Regions from separate parts of the Homo sapiens genome. Here regions 1 and 3 are each linked to region 2. Evidence: fine-mapped expression QTL. A gene starts in region 2. Each other region holds a variant in brackets. All regions are shown on one strand. Distances are between the middles of the regions. Region 1 overlaps RARA (retinoic acid receptor alpha). Region 2 holds the start of CASC3 (CASC3 exon junction complex subunit). Region 3 overlaps CASC3 (CASC3 exon junction complex subunit).

Evidence for each region. PIP is the estimated chance that this variant, and not a neighbour inherited with it, causes the effect.
Region 1: its variant is fine-mapped to the expression of CASC3 in whole blood (TOPMed, PIP above 0.99).
Region 3: its variant is fine-mapped to the expression of CASC3 in whole blood (INTERVAL, PIP 0.98).

What each region holds. Positions count from the first base shown.
Region 1 is chr17:40,354,752-40,362,416 of GRCh38, forward strand. RARA (retinoic acid receptor alpha) reads left to right here. Exons shown (of 9, transcript NM_000964.4): 8 at 512-670; 9 at 1,258-2,892. The coding sequence ends at 1,475. GJD3 (gap junction protein delta 3) reads right to left here. Exons shown (of 1, transcript NM_152219.4): 1 at 5,901-7,665. Among named protein-coding and RNA genes, the nearest start is that of GJD3-AS1, 4.3 kb to the right of the region's middle. RefSeq lists a silencer at 342-411. The variant G/T (reference allele first, on the strand shown) is at 4,907.
Region 2 is chr17:40,137,313-40,145,620 of GRCh38, forward strand. CASC3 (CASC3 exon junction complex subunit) reads left to right here and starts at 3,225. Exons shown (of 14, transcript NM_007359.5): 1 at 3,225-3,467; 2 at 3,895-3,922; 3 at 4,258-4,295. The coding sequence starts at 3,237. RefSeq lists enhancers at 2,836-3,776, 3,242-3,541.
Region 3 is chr17:40,164,514-40,172,821 of GRCh38, forward strand. CASC3 (CASC3 exon junction complex subunit) reads left to right here. Exons shown (of 14, transcript NM_007359.5): 8 at 2,284-2,348; 9 at 2,985-3,099; 10 at 3,337-3,435; 11 at 3,690-3,904; 12 at 4,811-4,933; 13 at 5,085-5,149; 14 at 5,934-7,658. The coding sequence ends at 5,108. Among named protein-coding and RNA genes, the nearest start is that of MIR6866, 6.7 kb to the left of the region's middle. RefSeq lists an enhancer at 3,551-4,110. The variant A/G (reference allele first, on the strand shown) is at 4,022.

The DNA.
Region 1 (7,665 bases), 220 kb after region 2:
CGATGCATGACCCTGAGCAGGTTGCTGAACTTCTCTGGGCCTCCGTTTCTGTACAGTGGGGGCGGTAACGGTCTCTAGCTCATGAAGTTGATGGGAGGATTACGGTGGTAACAGATACTGTGCAGGTGCCCAGAGCGAGCTCCAGTGCTTGTTAGTTGCTATTTTATTGTTGTGATTTCTGCCATTTCATCTGGTTTCCAGAATAACAGGGGGGAGTGGGAGCCTGCCTGGGAACCCTCTCCCTGCTTGAGGATGGCACTGCCCATTTGGGGTCCCATCCCACTAACTGGGCTCAGGGAGGGTTTGGGGCACCCCCTCACCCTCAGCTCCCGTTGCTCCCTTTTAAGGGCCTCTGTACCCTGCGGCAGCAGAGACCCCATGCCCTGCCCTGTGTGGGGAGGCGCCTGCGAGCTGCCCTCCTCCATGGCCTGGGCAGGCACGCCCCCCGGTGGCCGAGGCTGGGGGTGCAGCTGTGTTCCCAGCTGCTCAGGGGGTGGTTCTGCTTCCTCAGACCGCCAGGACCTGGAGCAGCCGGACCGGGTGGACATGCTGCAGGAGCCGCTGCTGGAGGCGCTAAAGGTCTACGTGCGGAAGCGGAGGCCCAGCCGCCCCCACATGTTCCCCAAGATGCTAATGAAGATTACTGACCTGCGAAGCATCAGCGCCAAGGGTGAGGCTCACAGACCTGGAGGGGTACCGGCCCCCGACACCTGGCCCAGGCCCCCACATCCAAGCCAGCACCCCATGTCTTTGTGCCAGGACAATACGACACCTGTCCCCATCTGTGTCTAGGCTGAGGTCCCCTAGTGACTCCACTTTGCCGAGGTGGCCCGCCTGTGTCACCTTTGTGTGGTAGTTCAGATCGTGGCTCTGGAACCAGACACGTGGGTGTGTGTCCTTGTGTGGGTCACTCAACAGCTCCTAGCTACAGTTTCCCTTCCGAGGGCGGGGATAACATTCGTGTTTACAGAGGGGTCGGGATGATCCCTAGCACACAGCACAGGGGAAGGAAGGGCTTGGCGTCTAGCCCAGGCCGGCAGTCTGGCCCTGGAGCCGGAGTTCGGGACCACTTTGCCCCATTGCCACCAGCCTCTGGACCTGGGGGCTTAAGAGAGCTGGCTCGTGTCAAAGAACTGAATCCCAAGAAAGATGCTAATATCAGCAGTATTGATCTTCCCACCTCGAGCCAGGCTTGCTGGGGCTGGGGGTGGGAGGGCTGGCCCAGCGTGCTGACCTCTGCCCCCTCCTTTCCTGCAGGGGCTGAGCGGGTGATCACGCTGAAGATGGAGATCCCGGGCTCCATGCCGCCTCTCATCCAGGAAATGTTGGAGAACTCAGAGGGCCTGGACACTCTGAGCGGACAGCCGGGGGGTGGGGGGCGGGACGGGGGTGGCCTGGCCCCCCCGCCAGGCAGCTGTAGCCCCAGCCTCAGCCCCAGCTCCAACAGAAGCAGCCCGGCCACCCACTCCCCGTGACCGCCCACGCCACATGGACACAGCCCTCGCCCTCCGCCCCGGCTTTTCTCTGCCTTTCTACCGACCATGTGACCCCGCACCAGCCCTGCCCCCACCTGCCCTCCCGGGCAGTACTGGGGACCTTCCCTGGGGGACGGGGAGGGAGGAGGCAGCGACTCCTTGGACAGAGGCCTGGGCCCTCAGTGGACTGCCTGCTCCCACAGCCTGGGCTGACGTCAGAGGCCGAGGCCAGGAACTGAGTGAGGCCCCTGGTCCTGGGTCTCAGGATGGGTCCTGGGGGCCTCGTGTTCATCAAGACACCCCTCTGCCCAGCTCACCACATCTTCATCACCAGCAAACGCCAGGACTTGGCTCCCCCATCCTCAGAACTCACAAGCCATTGCTCCCCAGCTGGGGAACCTCAACCTCCCCCCTGCCTCGGTTGGTGACAGAGGGGGTGGGACAGGGGCGGGGGGTTCCCCCTGTACATACCCTGCCATACCAACCCCAGGTATTAATTCTCGCTGGTTTTGTTTTTATTTTAATTTTTTTGTTTTGATTTTTTTAATAAGAATTTTCATTTTAAGCACATTTATACTGAAGGAATTTGTGCTGTGTATTGGGGGGAGCTGGATCCAGAGCTGGAGGGGGTGGGTCCGGGGGAGGGAGTGGCTCGGAAGGGGCCCCCACTCTCCTTTCATGTCCCTGTGCCCCCCAGTTCTCCTCCTCAGCCTTTTCCTCCTCAGTTTTCTCTTTAAAACTGTGAAGTACTAACTTTCCAAGGCCTGCCTTCCCCTCCCTCCCACTGGAGAAGCCGCCAGCCCCTTTCTCCCTCTGCCTGACCACTGGGTGTGGACGGTGTGGGGCAGCCCTGAAAGGACAGGCTCCTGGCCTTGGCACTTGCCTGCACCCACCATGAGGCATGGAGCAGGGCAGAGCAAGGGCCCCGGGACAGAGTTTTCCCAGACCTGGCTCCTCGGCAGAGCTGCCTCCCGTCAGGGCCCACATCATCTAGGCTCCCCAGCCCCCACTGTGAAGGGGCTGGCCAGGGGCCCGAGCTGCCCCCACCCCCGGCCTCAGCCACCAGCACCCCCATAGGGCCCCCAGACACCACACACATGCGCGTGCGCACACACACAAACACACACACACTGGACAGTAGATGGGCCGACACACACTTGGCCCGAGTTCCTCCATTTCCCTGGCCTGCCCCCCACCCCCAACCTGTCCCACCCCCGTGCCCCCTCCTTACCCCGCAGGACGGGCCTACAGGGGGGTCTCCCCTCACCCCTGCACCCCCAGCTGGGGGAGCTGGCTCTGCCCCGACCTCCTTCACCAGGGGTTGGGGCCCCTTCCCCTGGAGCCCGTGGGTGCACCTGTTACTGTTGGGCTTTCCACTGAGATCTACTGGATAAAGAATAAAGTTCTATTTATTCTACACATGCCTCCAGCCTTGCTGCCTCCACCCCCTCCTCTTGGCGTCTGGTCTGGGGGCTTGGGATGGGTTTCGTCATGTGCTCTGGGCCTGTGATGGCCAGGAATGAGCACTGGGGCCAAGGGGCTGGCCAGGGCACCCTTCCAAGCTGCCTTCTGAGGCTTACCTTGTGCTGGGGTCTTTGGAGATGCTGAGAAGGAGAAAGTCCTGCCCCTTGGGAAGCCCTCAGTCTGGGGATCCACACTGCCCATGTCAAGGAGCCCCAGTCTGGGAGTGGGAGAGAAGAGGAGGAAAGCTGCCCCCACCTTCAGGGAACCCCCAGTCTGAGGGAGGAAGCCGGAGCCACCCCTAGACATTTCTGGTCCTTGGGAAGCCTTCACCATCACGGCAGGAATGACAGATGGCACAGGAGCTGGGGTCAGGGACTCATAGAAACCTAACAAGAGGCCTGGCGCAGTGGCTCATGCCTGTAATTCCAGCACTTTGGGAGGCTGAGGTGGGCGGATCACTTGAGGTCAGGAGTTCAAAACCAGCCTGGCCAACATGGTGAAACCCCGTCTCTACTAAAAATACAAAAAAGTTAGCTGGGCGTGGTGGCGGGCGCCTGTAATCCCAGCTATTAGGGAGGCTGAGGCAAGAGAATTGCTTGAACCTGGGAGCTGGAGCTTGCAGTGAGCCGAGATCGTGCCATTGCACTCCAGCCTGGGCGACAGAGCAGGACTCCGTCTCAAATAAGAAAGAAAGAAAGAAAAAGAAAGAAGGAAGGAAGGAAAGAAAGGAGAAAGGAAAGGGAAAGGACGAAAGAGAAAGAAAGGGAAGGAAAGAAAGGACAGAAAGGAAAGAAAGAAAGAAAGAAAAGAAAAAAGAAAGAAGAAAGAAAGGAAAGAAAGAAAGAAAAAGAAGAAAGAAACTTAACAAGAACACAGGATTGGGATGGAAGCTGTGGGGGCCTAGCCGGGAGGGAGTAAGGCAAAGGGTTCCTTCTGCTAGAGGCTGCCTGCCATTTCTACATTAACCACCAGGTGGCGGCAGCGCCTTGCTTGACTCACCGGCCGCCCTAGGCTGGAGGCAACCGCGGGGACCGAGGCGCTTTTCCTCCAGTAAATATTTTCTAACATCTTTACGAGTCTGAAATGAAATCTAACATACTGTACCTGTACACGTGATTTCACAGATCAATATGTTGTCACAACCGTATTATAAAGGATAAATTGAGGGGCAGTGCTATGTGTTTCAATAGATTAATGCTTGCCCCTCTTTTGAATGAATACATTTGGATTTAAAAGAAGGTTGGAAGCCATTCTGTACAAGAAGCCCAGGAACATTAAAGAGCATGGGTGGATGTTGGAATAAAAATCGGCATGTTTGATCTATAATAAAACAATGCAAAAAAAGCCCAAACAAAACCCTTAATGGTTTTTTCTTTATCTTTTCTTTTCTTTTATTTTTTGAGACAGAGTCTTGCTGTGTCACCCAGGCTGGAGGGCAGTGGCGCAATCTCGGCTCACTGCAAGCTCCGCCTCCCGGGTTCACGCCATTGCCATTCTCCTGCCTCAGCCTCCCCAGCAGCTGGGACTACTGGCACACGTCGCCACACCCGGCTAATTTTTGTATTTTTAGTAGAGACGGGGTTTCACTGTGTTGGCCAGGATGGTCTCGATCTCCTGACCTCATGATCCGCCCGCCTCGGCCTCCCAAAGTGCTGGGATTACAGGCGTGAGCCACCGTGCCTGGCCTCAAAACCCTTAATGTTTTACATGTAAAACAGGGTTTGGGCCCAGGGTTTTCACTTATGCCAATGTCCAGTTGGACATTCTAAAGTTGTGCCTGAGGCTGGGCGCAGTGGCGCAAGCCTGTAATCTCAGAACTTTGGGAGGCAGAGGCTGACGGATCACTTGAGTCCAGGAGTTCAAGACCAGCCTGGGCAACATGGTGAAACCCTGCCTCTACAAAAAAAAATACAAAAATTAGCCTAGCCTTGTAGTGTGCATCTGTGGTGTCAGCTACTTGGGGGGGG[G/T]GCTCAGGTGGGAGAGTTGCTGGATCCCTGGAGGTTGAGGCTGCAGTGAGCCGTGATAACACCACTGCACTCTAGTCTGGGCAACAGATGGAGACCCTGTCTCAAAGAATAAAAATAAAAACAAAAAAGTTGTGCCAAGCAGGTTTTTATTTCAAGAGGATATCTTGACGTCCATAGCCCTTGCCCACTAAATGCCAATGGGGTCCCCCATCATTGTGAAAACAAAGCAGTGGCCCCCACATTTACAAAATGCCCCTTGGGGTAGTGCCTTTGCTGTTTGGAACCTCTAGTCTTGGGGTTGTCCTCAGTGGTCCACAGTTCACTGCTGTCGAGCAGAGTTGCTCAGCTTCAGCACCAATGTGAAGATCTGAGCCAGGTTGTGGGGGCTGTCCTGTGCATTGCAGGATGCTAAGCAACATCTCCAACCTTCCGCCCATGAAACCCTAGTGGTGCTTCTCTCCCACCCCAGCTGTAACAACCAAATATGTCTCCAGACACTGCTAAACGCCCCCCTGGGGGGCAAAATCACCCCCATGTGAGATCCACTGCTGTGGAGTGTGGTCCTCCAGGGCTGATGTGCTTTGCACTGAGCCAGGGCCCATCCTCCGCAGAGAGACTGAGCCAGAGGAAGGTGACCGGGATGCCACCTGGGCAGAGCTGCAACAGGCTTGACAGGCCTACGGGAGTGCAGGGCAGAGGCACTGAATCACGCTTGGGGCAGGGCTCAGAAGCCTTCCTGGAAGAGGTGGCCTCTCTCAGCTAAATCTCTTTTTAATTTAGTTTTATTTATTTTGAGACGGAGTCTCCCGCTGTAGCCGAGGCTCATTGCTAAATCTCTAGAGGAAAGAATTGGCTAGGTGGGTGCAGATTTGGAAGACTTAGTATGAAAAAAAGAATGTAAACTATCTCCTTAATACTTTTTAATATCAATGAGGCATTAAGATGAAAATACTTTGGGTGTGCTAGGTTAAATAAAATACGTGACTAAAATTAATTTCATTTGTTTCCTTTTACTTTTTTAATGTGGCTAATGAAAAACTTGAAACTACATACATGGCTCATATGCTATTTCCATCGGATGATGCTGATCTTGAACATCTTCTGACACACAGTAGGTACCCTACAAATATTTGTTGAATGAATACATCTGGAAAACAGCGGCACAGCCCCATCTGGGTTTGTGTGGAGGGGTCTGGGTTGTGGACACAGAACTGTCATCAGAGAGATGGTGCCCACCATAGCATGGATAGTGTTCGGGCATGGCAGTGGTGTAGGCCTGGGGACACCTTCAGTTTCTCATCCAACACATATTTACTGAGCACATACTACGTGCCATGGAAGGGGAGAGAGCAATGCCATCCTGCAGGAGAAGTGCTTTCCCTACGGAAGCGAGGGGCATCCAGCTCTGTCTTGGGGTGGGGGCTACCAGGGGAGCCCTCTCCTTGAAGGTGTCTGTTTTCTTCCCAAGTGACAACAATAGGTGGGTGGGCATTAGCTAGGGGAGGAGAAGGCTGCAGGAAGCAGCGGCTACTCTGGGCAAAGGAACAGCACGTTCAAACGCTTGGCAGCAAGCAGGTCTGGTGCTTGTTAGAAGAGAAAATTCCCTATGGTTCTGAGCACACCTGGAAGCCGGTGCTGTGGAGTCGAAGGCCTGACAGGGGCAGGGCTTCAGAAGGAAGCTTTGTGAAGGCGCTTGACTCACCCTGAGGGCAGGGGTGCTGCCCTCAGTCCCGGGTTTAAGTGGGGGGCGCTATTCAGAAACACCTCCCACTGCTGTGTGGGGCACAGGAGAGCTGAGAAAGACGCCAGGAACTCAGAAGGACAGGGTGGGGTGATGGCGGGGAACGCACAGCCTGGTAGGCAGGATGCGGTGAGGCCCGCAAGGTGCAGTCCGATGACGGCCCCTGGATTTCTCGCTTAGGTCCTGGGTGATCTTATGGAGAGCAGCCCACTGGCTGGTGAAGGGGGAGGGCAGACGGGAGGGGAGACACAGGAGGGGGATGCGCTGCATAGGCAGCAGCTCTTCGAATGCCCGCAAGTAGGAAGAAGGGGGTGGTTGGAAGGGAAGGCAGGGCCGGGAGCGCGTGTGTTTTGGGAGCTTTCTCCTGAGGACAGAAGGGACTTTCCCGTTTATAGCCTGGGGGAGCAGTAGCGGCGGGGAGGATGAAGATGGAGGAGGGAGGCATAACACACGTCTGGGTTGCCCTCTGGCCCGCCGCCCACCCCCACCCCACCTCCATGAAAGCGCCCAGCCCCCGCCTCGCCACAAGGGGTACTGTGAGGATGTTGCTCATAGGCTCCCGAGGATTGAGGCCTGCCCGGGGAAAGGGAGCCTCTCCTCCTCTTCCCTCCCTGGGCGGGGTCTCTTGGGAGGGGGGGACAGACCTCCTGTGATGCCCTGGCAGGTGGGCTGGGTTAGGGTGGTAGGGAGGGAGCCATTGTGGCTGCAGCTGGCATCGGATCCTGGCCACCCCCGCAGTGCATATCAGAGATCACACACACACGCGTGCACACACAGAGGTCACGCCGGATGTACACATGCACACATAGCGCACAAGGATGTTTCTGTGTACAGGTGTGCACACGCAGCCCACACAGAATGGACATGTGCGTGTGTGCACAATGCACTCACACAAAGCTCACAGGGATGTGAGTACACAGCTCTCAAGGGGCATATGTTTCTGTGTGCATGTGCACACAGCTCACCCGGGAGGGTTACGTGTGTCTGTGTGCACAAGTGGGCCTCACGCAGGGTGTAC
Region 2 (8,308 bases):
AAAAAAGGGTCGGGCGTGTTGGCTCACATTTGTAATCCCAGCCACTTTGGGAGACTGAGGTGGGTAGATCACCTGAGGTCAGAAGTTCGAAACCAGCTTGGCCAACACGGTGAAACCCTGTCTCTACTAAAAATAAAATAAATTAGCCAGGCTTGGTGACAGGCACCTGTAATCCCAGCTACTCGGGAGGCTGAGGCAGGAGAATTGCTTGAACCCAGGAGGCAGAGGTTGCAGTGAGCCGAGATCATGCCATTGCACTCCAGCCTGGGTGATAGAGGGAGACTCCAACTCCAAAAAAAAAAAAGTATAATTAGCAATTTTAGAAACGAGATTATAGGATACTTCGTAAGTTAACAAAATCTTATAGCTGGAAAGACATTAGAGGTCATCTAGTGTGACCCCGATATGTGATTTACCCTTGATAACACTCCAGACAAGCAAATTCCAGGCTGTGCTTCAACACTTTTTCTACATACATTTTTCCCCCTAAGTGTTTGAAAATTCTTGCTTGTTGACAAAAAATCTAACTTCTTGTAACTTAAACTCACTGGTTTTTGCTTTGCCTTCTAGGATGATGAAAAAAAGACCAATCCCTCCTTTCTTCATAGTCCCTAGTTAAAGATTGCTGTGGGCTCCAGGCCCGGCGCGGTGGCTCAGGCCTGTAATCCCAGCACTTTGGGAGGCCAAGGCGGGTGGATCACGAGGTCAGGAGTTCAAGAGCAGCCTGACCAACATGGTGAAACCCCGTCTCTACTAAAAATACAAAAATTAGCTGGGCGTGGTGGTGCGCGCCTGTAATCCCAGCTACACAGGAGGCTGAGGCAGGAGAATCGCTTGAACCTGAAAGGCGGAGGTTGCAGTGAGCCCAGATCGCACCACTCCACTCCAGCCTGGGCGACAGAGCGAGACTCCGTCCCCCTCAAAAAAAAAAAAAAAAACTGGACCCAGACTAAACAACTGAAGGACAAAGTGGCAGACTATCACTTTCCTTATTTAGACACTAAACTTGGCAGCCTTATTTGCACCAATTTAGTCTGTGATCGATAAGATCCTCCAGGTTCTTTTTCTTTAACACTTATTAAATCATATTATCCTCCATTTTGAACTCAGGCAGTTGGCTTTTGGAGCTGGACTTATAAGTTGTCACGTTTGGCCACTTGTCTAATTAGCTGAGATTGTTTGAATTTTCTTTTTTTCTTTTTTTTGAAACAGAATCTCTTTGTCTCCCAGGCTGGAGTGCAGTGGCGCGATCTCGGCTCACTGCAAGCTCCGCCTACCGGGTTCACGCCATTCTGCCTCAGCCTCCCGAATAGCTGGGACTACAGGCGCCTGCCACCACGCCCGTCTATTTTTTTTTATTTTTAGTAGAGACGGGGTTTCACCGTGTTAGCCAGGATGGTCTTGATCTCCTGACCTCGTGATCTGCCCGCCTCGGCCTCCCAAAGTGCTAGGATTACAGGCGTGAGCCACCGCGCCCGGCCTTGAATTTTCCTTTCATCTCTGAAGGCATTCATAATTACTTCCAGTTTCATGTTATCTATAAATTTGATAAACATCAGGATCCTTAACCATGTCATTTATAAAAATTTTACTCAGGAAAGGCCGGGCGCGGTGGCTCACGCCTGTAATCCCAGCACTTTGGGAGGCCAAGAACGGCGGATCACGAGGTCAGGAGATCGAGACCATCCTGGCTAACACGGTGAAACCTCATCTCTACTAAAAACATAAAAAGTTAGTCGGGCCTGGCGGCAGACACCTGTAGTCCCAGCTACTCGGGAGGCTGAGGCAGGAGAATGGCGTGAACCCGGGAGACGGAGCTTTCAGTGGGCCGAGATCACCCCACTGCACCCCAGCCTGGGCGACAGACAGAGTGAGACTCCCTCTCAAAAAAAAAAAAAATATTTTACTCAGGGAAGAATTCTATGCCATGGTGGCCTTTGTTTGATAACATACATTATTAACGTGCACTCCTGTAGGTGCACTAAAAACTTAGCTCATGCACTTTGTATATCCTTATAATGGTCCAAAGAAAACACACTGATTCTTTTCAATGGTGGCCAATGCCTTGCCAAAATGAAATAATTTCCATAAACCTTAAGAAGGAAATAATGTCAGGATTTTGAATCAACATCTGTTTCTACTGACCATTTATTTTTAAATAGGTTCTAAAATCCTGACAAGGGCAGTAGCTCATGCCTGTAGTCCCAGCACTTTGGGAGGCTGAGACGAAAGGATCGCTTGATCCCAGCCAGGAGACAAGCCTGGGCAAGAGCGAGACCCCATCTCTACAAAAAACAGAAAAATTAGCCGGGTGTGGTAGTGTGTGCCCGTTGTCCCAACTACTAAGGAAGCTAAGGCAAGGAGGTCACCTGTGCCTGGGAGGTCAAGGCTGCAGTGAGCCGCGCTACTGCACTCCAGCCTGGGCAACAGAGTGAGACCCTGCCTCGAAAAAGCCAAAACAAAACCGGTAATACTGGCATCATACCAGCCTGCACTTTGGGACAGGTGATGGCTGGGGTGGGAAGAAACGTGAAGAGGAAATGAGAACACAGAGAAAACGCTGCAACAAGAAGTCCTCTGGCTTCACTGCAGACAACTGGTTTCTCCTTCGCCCGTTATCTTAAACAAGGCTGGTGCAGCAAATCTGACGCAGCACTACAGCTTTTAAGATTTACCTTGATTCGTGATTTTACCAAGCAAAGGAATGCAGTAAATTGACCTGCTTCAAACGTAGGTAGAAGTGAGAAATGGAAACAGAAAACCATGAAACAGCCCTAGTGTTGCAGTGAAGCTGTGACAGGTTGACTCCTTCCACTCGGGAAGCCCAAGATGGCCGGGCCAGGAACCCGGGAGGCTGCTGAAGTCTCAATTCCCCTCGCCCTAGGCCTGCCCAAGGGAAGTCAGGAGCCGCGCCACGCCCCCTTACATCACCGATAGACGTAATCCGGGTCGGCCGCAAACGTGCCGCAGGCCTAGGCCCCGCCCAGTGCCCCGCCCCTCCCCCAACACACACACACACACACACACACACACACACCCCAACACACACACACACACCCCAACACACACACACACACACACACACACACACACACACACACACACACACACACACACAGCGGGATGGCCGAGCGCCGCACGCGTAGCACGCCGGGACTAGCTATCCAGCCTCCCAGCAGCCTCTGCGACGGGCGCGGTGCGTAAGTACCTCGCCGGTGGTGGCCGTTCTCCGTAAGATGGCGGACCGGCGGCGGCAGCGCGCTTCGCAAGACACCGAGGACGAGGAATCTGGTGCTTCGGGCTCCGACAGCGGCGGCTCCCCGTTGCGGGGAGGCGGGAGCTGCAGCGGTAGCGCCGGAGGCGGCGGCAGCGGCTCTCTGCCTTCACAGCGCGGAGGCCGAACCGGGGCCCTTCATCTGCGGCGGGTGGAGAGCGGGGGCGCCAAGAGTGCTGAGGAGTCGGAGTGTGTGAGTGCGCGCAGGCGGGGCGGGGTGGGGACCGGGCGGCGAGCCGGCCGGGGGCGGGGTGTAGGTGATGCTAGGTAGTCTGTGAGTTGATAGTAGATACTGGGACTTTTTTTTGTTTTTGAGAGAAAAGGGGAGTTATCCCAATGCGAGTTTGCATCCGGAGTTCCAAGGGAAGAAGAAGGATTGGGGGTTTCTGGGAGGATGGTAGAGCCGCTGGAGATGGAAAGCGGATGTTTTATTCAGAAGTCGGGGCTGGAGGGAAGGAGACCAGACCTGCCTTGGCTACTACTTGATAAAGATTTACCTATCTCTGTCTCCCTCTCCAACCATTTTGTGCTGAATCTTCAGCTTTTCACCCACATTTCTTTATTGGGCTCCCCACCTCTGGAAATCACAGAACTAACCCATGTCTTCTGCTTTCTTTCAGGAGAGTGAAGATGGCATTGAAGGTGATGGTGAGTAGCATCTTTTACCCCATTAGGACAAGAGTTTTTTTTAACATAAACTCAGGTCATCTATTTCCAACATCGACATTCTCACACACTGTCACGGATTTAGGGCCACAGAGTGCCTTTTTGTAACATAGTGGTTAAGAGCATAGGCTTTAGCAGTATAGTCTTCAGCAAGTTACCCTCTGAGCCTGTTTCTCCTTTTGTAAGTGGGGACTATAATTTTATCCACGTTGTAGGTTGATGTCAGAATTAAATGAGACTCTTAGTCTGACCTGTAATAAGCAGCCAAAAAATGTTTCTGGGTTTCTTTTTTTCCACATATTTCTGTTTTATTTCAGCTGTTCTCTCGGATTATGAAAGTGCAGAAGACTCGGAAGTGAGTATGACAGGTTTTTTCCTATGGTATAGATCAGAAATGCTTTTTAAAAACGTGTACACACCTTCGTTGCAAACGTACCATGACCTCCGTGTTTATCCTCTTGTGTATTCTTCATTTATGCTTCTGAAAAAGTGTTACAGAAGGTCTTGTTCACTTTAGACCTAGGGAAAACTTGGGGCACGCCGTCTCAAGCCACAGGTGTTATACTGTTAGTTGGCTTCTCTTCCTGTCTGAAGAATATGAGGTTCTAAATAAGAGAGTGAGGATATCTTGAAGTCCTCTGAAAGATGTTTGACAGTTTGTTTTATGCAGTGTAGGTTGAGAAGCCAGCCAATTGGTTATTTTTTTCCAAATCTATCTGAAGACTTTGAAAGGGTAGGATTCGGAATGTTTTGTGCCAAGAGCATCCATCATTTTATAGGTGGGGATTTTTCTGTTTTTAGGAGAAAGTTTCCTGTCTTTTGGATAAACTACTAGAGATGCCATCAGAGTAAGTGTTTGTTTCCTGGGTTGTTGAGTGGACTCCTGAGTTCTGGTAATGGGATTATATATAGGGGGAATTGGATGGTGGATCAAAGATTTTGTCTATACATTTTTAGAACTGTTACTACATTTTAGAATCTGTTAAGCCCTTGAGGATGGAATAGTGAACACTATAACAAAATTCCTATCTTTAGAGATCTTACAACTCAATAAGGAAGTCAGACAAACATTCAAGCAATTGTACCACTTGCTGATAGGGGATAGCACTGGGATAGGGCTAAGTAGGGTGTTACAGCTGGGTACTGAATCCATCTTAGGCAGTCGGGAAAGATTAAACAGTTGGCTGGGTAAGATGTGTTCTAGGCAGAGAGAACAACAGTCAAGAAAGCCCACAGGGGCCGGGAGCAGTGGCTCACGCCTGTAATCCCAGCACTTTGGAAGGCTGAGGCAGACGGATCACTTGAGGCCAGGAGTTTGAGACCAACGTGGCCAAAATGGTGAAACTCCATCTCTGGCCCGGCGCGGTGGCTCACGCCTATAATCCCAGCACTTTGTGAGGCCCAGGCGGGCGGATCACGAGGTCAGGAGATCGAAACCGTCCTGGCTAACATGGTGAAACCCCGTCCCTACTAAAAATACAAAAAAAAATAATAATAAATTAGCTGGGCGTGGTGGCGGGCGCCTGTAGTCCCAGCTACTCGGGAGGCTGAGGCAGGAAAATGGTGTGAATCCGGGAGGCGGAGCTTGCAGTGAGCTGAGATTGTGCCACTGCACTCCAGCCTGGGTGACAGAGCAAGACTCCGTCTCAAAAAAAAAAACCCATCTCTACTAAAAAATACAAAAATTAGCTTGGTGTGGTGATGCATGCCTGTAATCGCAGCTACTTGGGAGGCTGAGACACGAAAATCGTTTGATCCCAGGAGATGGAGGTGGCAGTGAGCTGAAATCATGCCACTGCACTGCTACCTGGGTGACAGAGTGAGACTCTGTCTCAAAAAAAAAAAAATAAATAAATAAAAGAAAGGCTGTAGGGGTACAAAAAGAATAGTAATTAGAATGAATAAGATCTAAACCCAGCGCGATGGCTCACACCTGTAATCCCAGCACTGTGGGAGGCCAAGGTGGGCCAGTCACTTGAGGCTAGGAGGTCAAGACCAGCCTGGCCAACATGGCAAAACTCCATCTCTACTAAAAATACAAAAATTAGCAGCTCATGGTCCCGCATGCCTGTAATTCCAGCTACTCAAGTGGCTGAGGCAGGAGAATCCCTTGAGCCTGGGAGGTGGAGGTGGCAGTGAGCCATAATCACACCACTGTACTCCAGCCTGGGCAACAGAGCAAGACTCTTGTCTCAGAAAATTTAAAAAATAAAAATGACTAAGATCTAGAATTTCATATTTGCAACATGGTGACTACAGTCAACCAGTAACTTATTGTACATTTAAAAATAACTATTGGCTGGGCACAGTGGCTCATGCCTGTAATCCCAGCACTTCGGGAGGCTGAGGTGGGTGGATAACAAGGTCAAGAGATTGAGACCATCCTGGCCAACATGGTGAAATCTCGTCTCTACTAAAAATACAAAAATTAGCTGGGCGTGCTTGCACGCCCCTGTAGTCCCAGCTACTCAGGAGGCTGAGGCAGGAGAATCGCTTGAATCCGGGAGGCAGAGGTTGCAGTGAGCCGAAATCAAGCCACTGCACTCCAGCCTGGTGACAGGGCAAGACTCCATCTCAAAAAAAAAGTATATATATATATTAATAAAAGAACGTAATTGAATTGTTTGTAACAAAGGATAAATGCTTGAGGCGATCCATACCCCATTTACCCTTACATGATTATTACACATTGTATATCTATATAAAAATATCTCATGGGCCGGGCTTGGTGGCTCACACCTGTAATCCCAGCACTTTGGGAGGCCGAGGCGGGTGAATCACCTGCGGTCAGGAGTTCGAGACTAGCCTGGCCAACATGGCGAAACCCATTTTCAGTCTCTACTGAAAATAAGAAAAATTAAGTAGGCGTGGTGGCAGGTGCCTGTAATCCCAGCGACTCAGGAGGCTGAGGCAGGAGAATCACTTGAACCCAGGAGGTGGAGGTTGCAGTGAGCCAAGATTGTGCCATTGCACTTCATCCTGGGCAACAAGAGGGAAACTCTGTCTCAAAAAACAAAAACAAAAACAAAACTCATGTACTACATAAATATATACCTACTGTGTACTCAACAAAAATTAAAAACTTTCTTTTTCTTTTTTTTTTTTTGCTTGAGATGGAGTCTTGCTCTGTAACCCAGGCAAGAGTGCAGTGGCATGATCTTAGCTCGCTGCAACCTCCACCTCCCGGGTTCAAGCGATTCTCCTGTCTCAGCTTCCCAAGTAGCTGGGATTACAGGTGCACACCACCACACCCAGCTAATTTTTGTATTTGTAGTAGAGACGGGGTTTTACCATGTTGGCCAGGCTGGTCATGAACTCGTGAACTCAGGTGATCCGTCCGCCTCAGCTTCCCAAAGTACCGGGATTACAGGTGGATTACGGGTGTGAGCCACTGTGCCCAGCCCTCTTTTTTTTTTTTTTTTTTTTTTAAAAAAGAGGCAGGGTCTCACTCTGTTGCCCAGTCACCCAGGCTGGAGTGCAGTTGTGGGGTCACAGCTCACTGCAACCTCAAACTGCTGGGTTCAACCAGTCCTCCTGCCTTGACCTCCTGAAGTGCTGAGATTACAAGCATGAGCCACCATACCCAGCCAAAAAAAAAAAAAAATTAAGTTTTTTTTTTTTTTATTGAGATGGAGTATTGCTCTGTTACCCAGGCTGGAGTGCAATGGCTCGATCTCAGCTCACTGCAACCTCTGCCTCCTGGGTTCAAGCGATTCTCCTGCCTCAGCCTCCCGAGTAGCTGGGATTATAGGCGCATGCCACCACGCCCGCCTAATTTTTGTGTTTTTAGTAGAGATGGGGTTTCACCATGTTGGTCAAGCTGGTCTCGAACTCCTGACCTCAGGTGACCCACCCACCTCGGCCTCCCAAGGTGCTGGGATTACAGGCATGAGCCACCGTGCCCCCCATTTTTTTTGTTTTGTTTTGTTTTGTTTTTTAAGACGGAGTCTCATTCCGTTGCCAGGCTGGAGTGCGGTGGTGCAATCTCGGCTCACTGCAGCCTCCGCCCCGCCTGGTTCAAGTGATTTCTCCTGCCTCAGCCTCCCGAGTAGCTGGGACTACAGGTGTGCACCACCACGCTCAGCTAATTTTTGTATTTTTAGTAGAGACGGGGTTCCACCATGTTGGCCAGGATGGTCTCCATCTCTTGACGTCGTGATCCACCCACCTCGGCCTCCCAAAGTGCTGGGATTACAGGCGTGAGCTACTGCGCCTGGCCCAAAATTTTTTTAAAAAGAGAAAAAGCCCAGATAGAGAAGATAGAGAGCGTTTGGGAACTTGGGAGTAATTAGGTGTGACTGGAGCATTGTTGGGACAGGATAGGTATTAGAAATAAAGACAAATTGGTGAGCAGGGGCCACTAATTGG
Region 3 (8,308 bases), 27 kb after region 2:
CTCGGCTCACTGTAATGTCCACCTCCGGGTTCAAGTGATTCTCCTGCCTCAGCCTCCCGAGTAGCTGGGAGTATAGGCGTGCACTACCACGCTGGGCTAATTTTTGTATTTTTAGTAGAGACCGGGTTTCACCATGTTGGCCAGGATGGTCTTGATCTCTTGACCTTGTGATCCTCCCACCTTGGCTTCCCAAAGTGCCGGGATTACAGGTGTGAGCCACAGCCACCGTGCCTGGCCTTTTTTTTTTTTTTTTTTTTTTTGTGACAGAGACTTGCTCTGTTGCCCAGGCTGGAGTGCAGTGGCACGATCTTGGCTCACTACAACCTCTGCGTCCAGGGCTCAAACAATTCTCCTGCCTCAGCCTCCTGAGTAGCTGGGATTACAGGCTCTCACCACCACACCTGGCTAATTTTTTTTTTTTTTTTTTGAGACAGAGTCTCACTGTTGCCCAGGCTGGAGTGCAGTGGTGTGATCTCGGCTCACTGCAAGCTCTGCCTCCTGGGTTCACGCCATTCTCCTGCCTCAGCCTCCTGAATAGCTGGGACTACAGGCGCCCACCACCGCGACTGGCTAGTTTTTTTTTTTGTATTTTTAGTAGAGACGGTTTCACCGTGTTAGCCAGGATGGTCTCGATCTCCTGACCTCGTGATCCGCCCACCTTGGCCTCCCAGAGTGCTGGGATTACAGGCATGAGCCACCGTGCCTGGCCCACACCTAATTTTTGTATTTTTCATAGAGATGGGGTTTCATTATGTTGGCCAGGCTGGTCTCGAACTCCTGACCTTAAGTGATCGACCCATCTTGGCCTCCCAGAGTGCTGGGATTACAGGCGTGAGCCACTGTGCCAGCCCCAGCTAATTTTTAAAAAATTTTTTGTAGTGATGGGTCTTGCTATATTGCCCAGGCTAATCTTGAACTCCTGGGCTCAAGAGATCCTCCTAAAGCGCTGGGATTACAGATGGAAGACACTGCACCTGCCCGGTCATCATTGAGCCTCCTGAGTACAGGATCATTTTCCACAAAAAGTAGAAGAAGACAACGTTATTATTTGAACTAATGGTTAAATATTTGAAGGCAGAAATTTATTCAGTTGAATTTTGATCAAGATCTTCTCTAATATATTTGAAAGGCAAGCCTCCCTTATTTCCTTAATCTTCTAGAGACAGATTGCCCAATAGAACTTTGTGTAATGATTGTACTTTTGTGTTTTTGTTGTTGTTGTGTTTACATAGATATAGTTTTTTTTTTTGTTTTTTTTTTTTTTTAGATGGGTCCCACTTTGTCACCCAGGCTAGAGTCTGGAGTGCAGTAGCGTGACCTTGGCTCACTGCAACCTCCGCCTCCAGGGCTCAAGCAATCCTCCCATCTCAGCCTCCTCAGTAGCTAAGATCATAAGCACACATCATTACACCTGGCTGATTTTTTTTATTTTTTGAAAAGACGGGGGGTCTCACTGTGTTTTCCAGGCTGGTCTTGAACTCCTGGGCTCAAGCAGTCTTACCTCTGCCACCCAGAGTGCTGGGCTTATAAGCATGAGCCACTGCATCCAGCCGGAATTGAACTTTTAATTAATTGAAACTTAAGTGTCCACATTTGGTTAGTGGATATCATATTGGGCAGCATAGTTTTAGAGAGTAAGACCTACCTATTACCCATTTTGCCTATTGTGGTTTGTTTTTCTCCAGCCAGATAGATCAAAGGATCTTCCCTTAGTCTGAAATCTAACTTAAATATTGGAACTCCTCAATTGGAGTTGCAGCACCCTTCTTACTATTGGAGGACAATCTCTAGAACATTCCTTTTTGTCTTGAGTCATTTTAGCCAGAGGAGAATCTCCTTTCAAACTTCCAACCCAGACCCCTGTGAATGGATATAATCAAGTAGATTTACAAAGCATCCCTCCCTTGTCCAGCTGTTGCTCAGAAACTCTTGGGCTGAGATTTTTCAATATGTTGGATAATGTAATGTGCTAATTATAATCTCTCAGGGATTCTATGCAGGGAACAATTTGATAGGAAAAAATTTGAATTTGATTTTCTTCACTGAAGTCATTTTATTTTTCATTTTCAAGGGCTTTATTGCTATATTAAGATGGCAGACAGTGGGGACAAATTTCTAAATGCTGGTGTTGACAGAAAGCAGAGATAGTTTATAGAGAATTTTATTAGTTAAAAGAAAAAAGGCATTCCTTATGTTGACACTTAAACCTGTCTCTTGATAGTATCTTTGAGTCCCACTCACGTATGTCTGATCTGCAGAAGTGACTTTTTTGGTGTATTACAGGTATGCCCAACCATATACACATGGGAGCAGGACCTCCACCTCAGTTTAACCGGATGGAAGAAATGGTACAGAAGGGGAAAGGGGTAGATGGGGGAGGGAGCTGCCTGTTACACAGCTTGTTCATTGTTTAAACCAAGATAAGGTCTTTTTTTTTTTTCTTTTCTTTCTTTCTTTTTTTTTGAGACAGAGTCTCGCTCTGTTGCCCAGGCTAGAGTGCAGTGACGGGATCACGGCTCACTGCAAGCTCTGCCTCCTGGGTCCCAGTTCAAGCAATTCTGCCTCAGCCTCCCGAGTAGCTGGCATTACAGGCACGTGCCATCATGCCCAGCTAATTTTTGTATTTTTAGTAAAGACAGGGTTTCACCATGTTGGCCAGGCTGGTCCTGACTCCTGACCTCATGATCCACCCACCCTGGCCTCCCAAAGTATTGGGATTACAGGCATGAGCCACCACGCCCGGCCAAGATAAAGTCAGTTTTTCCATTGATTATGCATGTTTCTTTTAATTTGGATCTCCTAAATGTAAGGTAGAAGGTTTAGGTTCAAATCTTGATATCTTTTCATTATTTTTCAGCTCACTTTGCAAATATCCATTAAATACCTGCCATGTACCAAGTGTTTTTCAACACCTAAAGGAAGGTAGGACTTGATATGAGAGCCCTCTAGAATTCTTATTGTTTAGGCCTCTTTCTTTGTCTCAGGGTGTCCAGGGTGGTCGAGCCAAACGCTATTCATCCCAGCGGCAAAGACCTGTGCCAGAGCCCCCCGCCCCTCCAGTGCATATCAGTATCATGGAGGGACATTACTATGATCCACGTGAGTTTTTTCTTACTGTTGGGGTACTTTTCTTGGCAGGGTGAAGTGAAGTAAGATACCAGGCTCCTGGCTCCTGAATTTCTCTTCTGACCTCTTATAGTGGTTATCAAACATTGTCTGGTTGCTGTTTTCTTCGCATGGAATATTGAGAACATCTTTTAAAGGGCTTGGGGAACAAGGAGACTTGTCCATGTGAAGAGTAAGGGTTTATGAGAGTCCCAATGTGATATCTTACAGTGCAGTTCCAGGGACCAATCTATACCCATGGTGACAGCCCTGCCCCGCTGCCTCCACAGGGCATGCTTGTGCAGCCAGGAATGAACCTTCCCCACCCAGGTAAGCTTTGTGTCTCTGCTTATATGCTTCCAGTACCTGAGGATATATGTTGGGAGTGCCACAAAACCCATCCTCCTGAGCTTTGTGCTGCTAGCCTGGGAGTCTGGCCATCCTGGCTGCTTGGGCAACAAGTTCCTCTTGTGTCCATCCTGAGGACTTCCATTCTGAGCCTGATTATACTGAGCAGTCCAGCCGGGCCATCCTGTGAAAATGATGTTACTTTATTTTTCAGTTTTTTTCTTCTCCTTATCCAGGTTTACATCCCCACCAGACACCAGCTCCTCTGCCCAATCCAGGCCTCTATCCCCCACCAGTGTCCATGTCTCCAGGACAGCCACCACCTCAGCAGTTGCTTGCTCCTACTTACTTTTCTGCTCCAGGCGTCATGAACTTTGGTAATCCCAGTTACCCTTATGCTCCAGGGGCACTGCCTCCCCCACCACCGCCTCATCTGTATCCTAATACACAGGTGAGATGGCTAATGATCATGTTTTTCTAGATACACATTCTTTAATTCAGACAGGAATGTGGTATGGGGAGAATGCTAAAGGAATTTGAGAGAACATTTTCAGTGCCACTGATTTGT[A/G]TGTGACACCAAGACGCCTCTTAGTGGTCAGGAGCTGGAAATGCAGCTTATGTAATGCCCATCATCTTTATTCTTTTCAGTTTTTTTCTCCGTTGCCCAGGCTTGGAGTGCAGTGGCGTGATCTCGGTTCACTGTAACCTCCACCTCTTGGGTTCAAGCGATTCTTCTGCCTCAGCCTCCCGAGTAGCTGGGATTACAGTGCCTGCCACCATGCCCGGCTAGTTTTTGTATTTCTAGTAGAGATGGCGTTTCACCATGTTGGCCAAGCTGGTCTCAAACTCCTGACCTCAACCGATCCACCTGCCTCGGCCTCCGAAAGTGCTGGGATTACAGGCATAAGCCACCGCACCCAGCGTTCAGTTTCTTTAATGGTGTTTCTTTCCTGTGTTGTGGTACATCATAGGTGGCAATACCTGGTTTTTACTCTATTGCATAAAGAAGCTGTATTCTACTCCTTATCACCCCTACCTCTGTCCTGCTTAACTTCCACCACGTTGACATAATCAAGTATCTGTAGTGTCGCTACTGAACTCAGCCTTTTCCATTTGTCAGCTGATGGTAGGAATTAGAGAAAGCTGGGCAGTACTTTGAAGAAATAAAAACCAGAGCATAATAATGAAGAATTAAGGCAAAAATGAATAGTCACTTTATTTTGAAGGGTGGGCAGATTAGATATTTTTAAAATTATAAATTCCCCAATTCTCTTATGGCTGAATAATATTTCCTGTTCATCATAGGTTGGATGAATTCATTCCTAACTTTTTCTTCTCCTGGCTTGTGGGGTCCCAGGCCCCATCACAGGTATATGGAGGAGTGACCTACTATAACCCCGCCCAGCAGCAGGTGCAGCCAAAGCCCTCCCCACCCCGGAGGACTCCCCAGCCAGTCACCATCAAGCCCCCTCCACCTGAGGTATGAGAGTTCCTTCCTATACTTAATGCACATGCTCCGTCAGTGGGCTTTCCTTCTCCCCAGAGGATTTCCCTCATTTTCTGGGTGTGTTTCTCTGGAAAACAGTCTTTTTGTTATGACCTGATAACAAATTCCAACTTTGTTATTTCAGGTTGTAAGCAGGGGTTCCAGTTAATACAAGTTTCTGAATATTTTAAATCTTAACATCATATAAAAGTAAGTGCACAACTTACTGTGAATATTGTTAAAACTAATGCTCACACTTGCTTAATAAACAAAAATCACTTAATTAATGCTTTTTTTTTTTTTTTTTTTTTTTTTTTTTTTGAGACGGCGTCTCAGTCTGTTATCCAGGCTGGAGTGCAGTGGTGCAATCTCGGCTCACTGCAACCTCCATCTCCTGAGTTCAAGCGATTCTCTTGCCTCAGCCTCCTAAGTAGCTAGGATTACAGGCACGCACCACCACACCTGGCTAATTTTTGTATTTTTAGTGGGAATGGGGTTTCACCATATTGGCCAGGCTGGTCTTGAACTCCTGACCTCAGGTGATCCACCTGCCTTGGCCTCCCAAAGTGTTGGGATTACAGGTGTGAGCCACCCCACCCAGCCTCTGATTAATGCTTTAAGTTATAATAATCATGGGATATCTCAGGAGGCTTAAAGGAGTCCTGAAATTTGCCAGTTTGTTTGTTTGGCAAGTGTATTGGGCAGGGTTGAAGTAGAAACGATTGTTAACATGACAGTTTTCAATTGGGAAGCTACAAGGAAAAAATACAGGAAGGCAGTCAAGGAAAAGGGAAATCTAAATTTGAGATGTTATAGCAGAAAAAACCAGTTCTAAAGATCATAGAGGAGAAGGACTGGGGGTTTTGTTGCTTTTGTTTAAGGACATTACTTAAAACACATTATTTAGAAGTGTGGCTTTTTGAAAACAGCTTGTGAATGCCCAGAAGGCCCACTAACACTTTGGTGGTTCTTCCCTTTTTCCAACCCCTGTCAGAGCAGCAGAGGTGAGAACTCAGAAGAGAAATACAGCTGGCTATCTACTACCAGAAGGGCTTCAAAGATATAGGGTGTGGCTCCTACCAGCAAACAGCTGAAAGAGGAGGACCCCTGCCTTCCTCTGAGGACAGGCTCTAGAGAGAGGGAGAAACAAGTGGACCTCGTCCCATCTTCACTCTTCACTTGAGTTGGCTGTGTTCGGGGGAGCAGAGAGAGCCAGACAGCCCCAAGCTTCTGAGTCTAGATACAGAAGCCCATGTCTTCTGCTGTTCTTCACTTCTGGGAAATTGAAGTGTCTTCTGTTCCCAAGGAAGCTCCTTCCTGTTTGTTTTGTTTTCTAAGATGTTCATTTTTAAAGCCTGGCTTCTTATCCTTAATATTATTTTAATTTTTTCTCTTTGTTTCTGTTTCTTGCTCTCTCTCCCTGCCTTTAAATGAAACAAGTCTAGTCTTCTGGTTTTCTAGCCCCTCTGGATTCCCTTTTGACTCTTCCGTGCATCCCAGATAATGGAGAATGTATCAGCCAGCCTTCCCCACCAAGTCTAAAAAGACCTGGCCTTTCACTTTTAGTTGGCATTTGTTATCCTCTTGTATACTTGTATTCCCTTAACTCTAACCCTGTGGAAGCATGGCTGTCTGCACAGAGGGTCCCATTGTGCAGAAAAGCTCAGAGTAGGTGGGTAGGAGCCCTTCTCTTTGACTTAGGTTTTTAGGAGTCTGAGCATCCATCAATACCTGTACTATGATGGGCTTCTGTTCTCTGCTGAGGGCCAATACCCTACTGTGGGGAGAGATGGCACACCAGATGCTTTTGTGAGAAAGGGATGGTGGAGTGAGAGCCTTTGCCTTTAGGGGTGTGTATTCACATAGTCCTCAGGGCTCAGTCTTTTGAGGTAAGTGGAATTAGAGGGCCTTGCTTCTCTTCTTTCCATTCTTCTTGCTACACCCCTTTTCCAGTTGCTGTGGACCAATGCATCTCTTTAAAGGCAAATATTATCCAGCAAGCAGTCTACCCTGTCCTTTGCAATTGCTCTTCTCCACGTCTTTCCTGCTACAAGTGTTTTAGATGTTACTACCTTATTTTCCCCGAATTCTATTTTTGTCCTTGCAGACAGAATATAAAAACTCCTGGGCTTAAGGCCTAAGGAAGCCAGTCACCTTCTGGGCAAGGGCTCCTATCTTTCCTCCCTATCCATGGCACTAAACCACTTCTCTGCTGCCTCTGTGGAAGAGATTCCTATTACTGCAGTACATACGTCTGCCAGGGGTAACCTGGCCACTGTCCCTGTCCTTCTACAGAACCTGAGGGCAAAGATGGTGGCTGTGTCTCTCCCCGGTAATGTCACTGTTTTTATTCCTTCCATCTAGCAGCTGGCCTAATCACTCTGAGTCACAGGTGTGGGATGGAGAGTGGGGAGAGGCACTTAATCTGTAACCCCCAAGGAGGAAATAACTAAGAGATTCTTCTAGGGGTAGCTGGTGGTTGTGCCTTTTGTAGGCTGTTCCCTTTGCCTTAAACCTGAAGATGTCTCCTCAAGCCTGTGGGCAGCATGCCCAGATTCCCAGACCTTAAGACACTGTGAGAGTTGTCTCTGTTGGTCCACTGTGTTTAGTTGCAAGGATTTTTCCATGTGTGGTGGTGTTTTTTGTTACTGTTTTAAAGGGTGCCCATTTGTGATCAGCATTGTGACTTGGAGATAATAAAATTTAGACTATAAACTTGGCTCCCTTGCCAGTGTTTTGCATGAGTCTTGATTTGGGAGGGAGGGAAGAGGACTCCCTAATTCCCCCACAGGGTCACGGTCACAACTCAGGTCAGCCCAAGTTGTGAAACAGAAGCCCAGAGAGATGAGGAGCCCCTATGAGGCCATAAATGTGTCTGCACTCCCCATCAGTTATCTTTTTTAACCACATAGATCACCAGGATGTCATGCCATCCCTTAGATTGGAAGTGTCAGGGACAGAAAAGTAGTGAGATGCTGGTTATTCACATGAGCATCTAGTATCCTTTATGGCTTCCTTTGTGTTTGGCAAGTAAGTTTCCCAAGGTAATATGCCATCAGATGTCAATATAACTATACCAAGTCCTGGGTTGGGGGGAAGTACAGGTAGCTAGCTTTCTTGAAAAGTGAAGATGCTGCTGGCCACCGTGGCTCACGCCTGTAATCCCAGCACTTAGGGAGGCCGAGGTGGGCAGATCTCGATCAGGGAGATCGAGACCATCCTGGCTAAACAGGGTGAAACACTGCCTCTACTAAAAATACAAAAATAGCTGGGAGTGGTGGCGGGTGCCTGTAGTCCCAGCTACTTGGGAGGCTGAGGCAGGAGAATGATGGGAACCCGGGAGGTGGAGCTTGCAGTGAGCCGAGATTG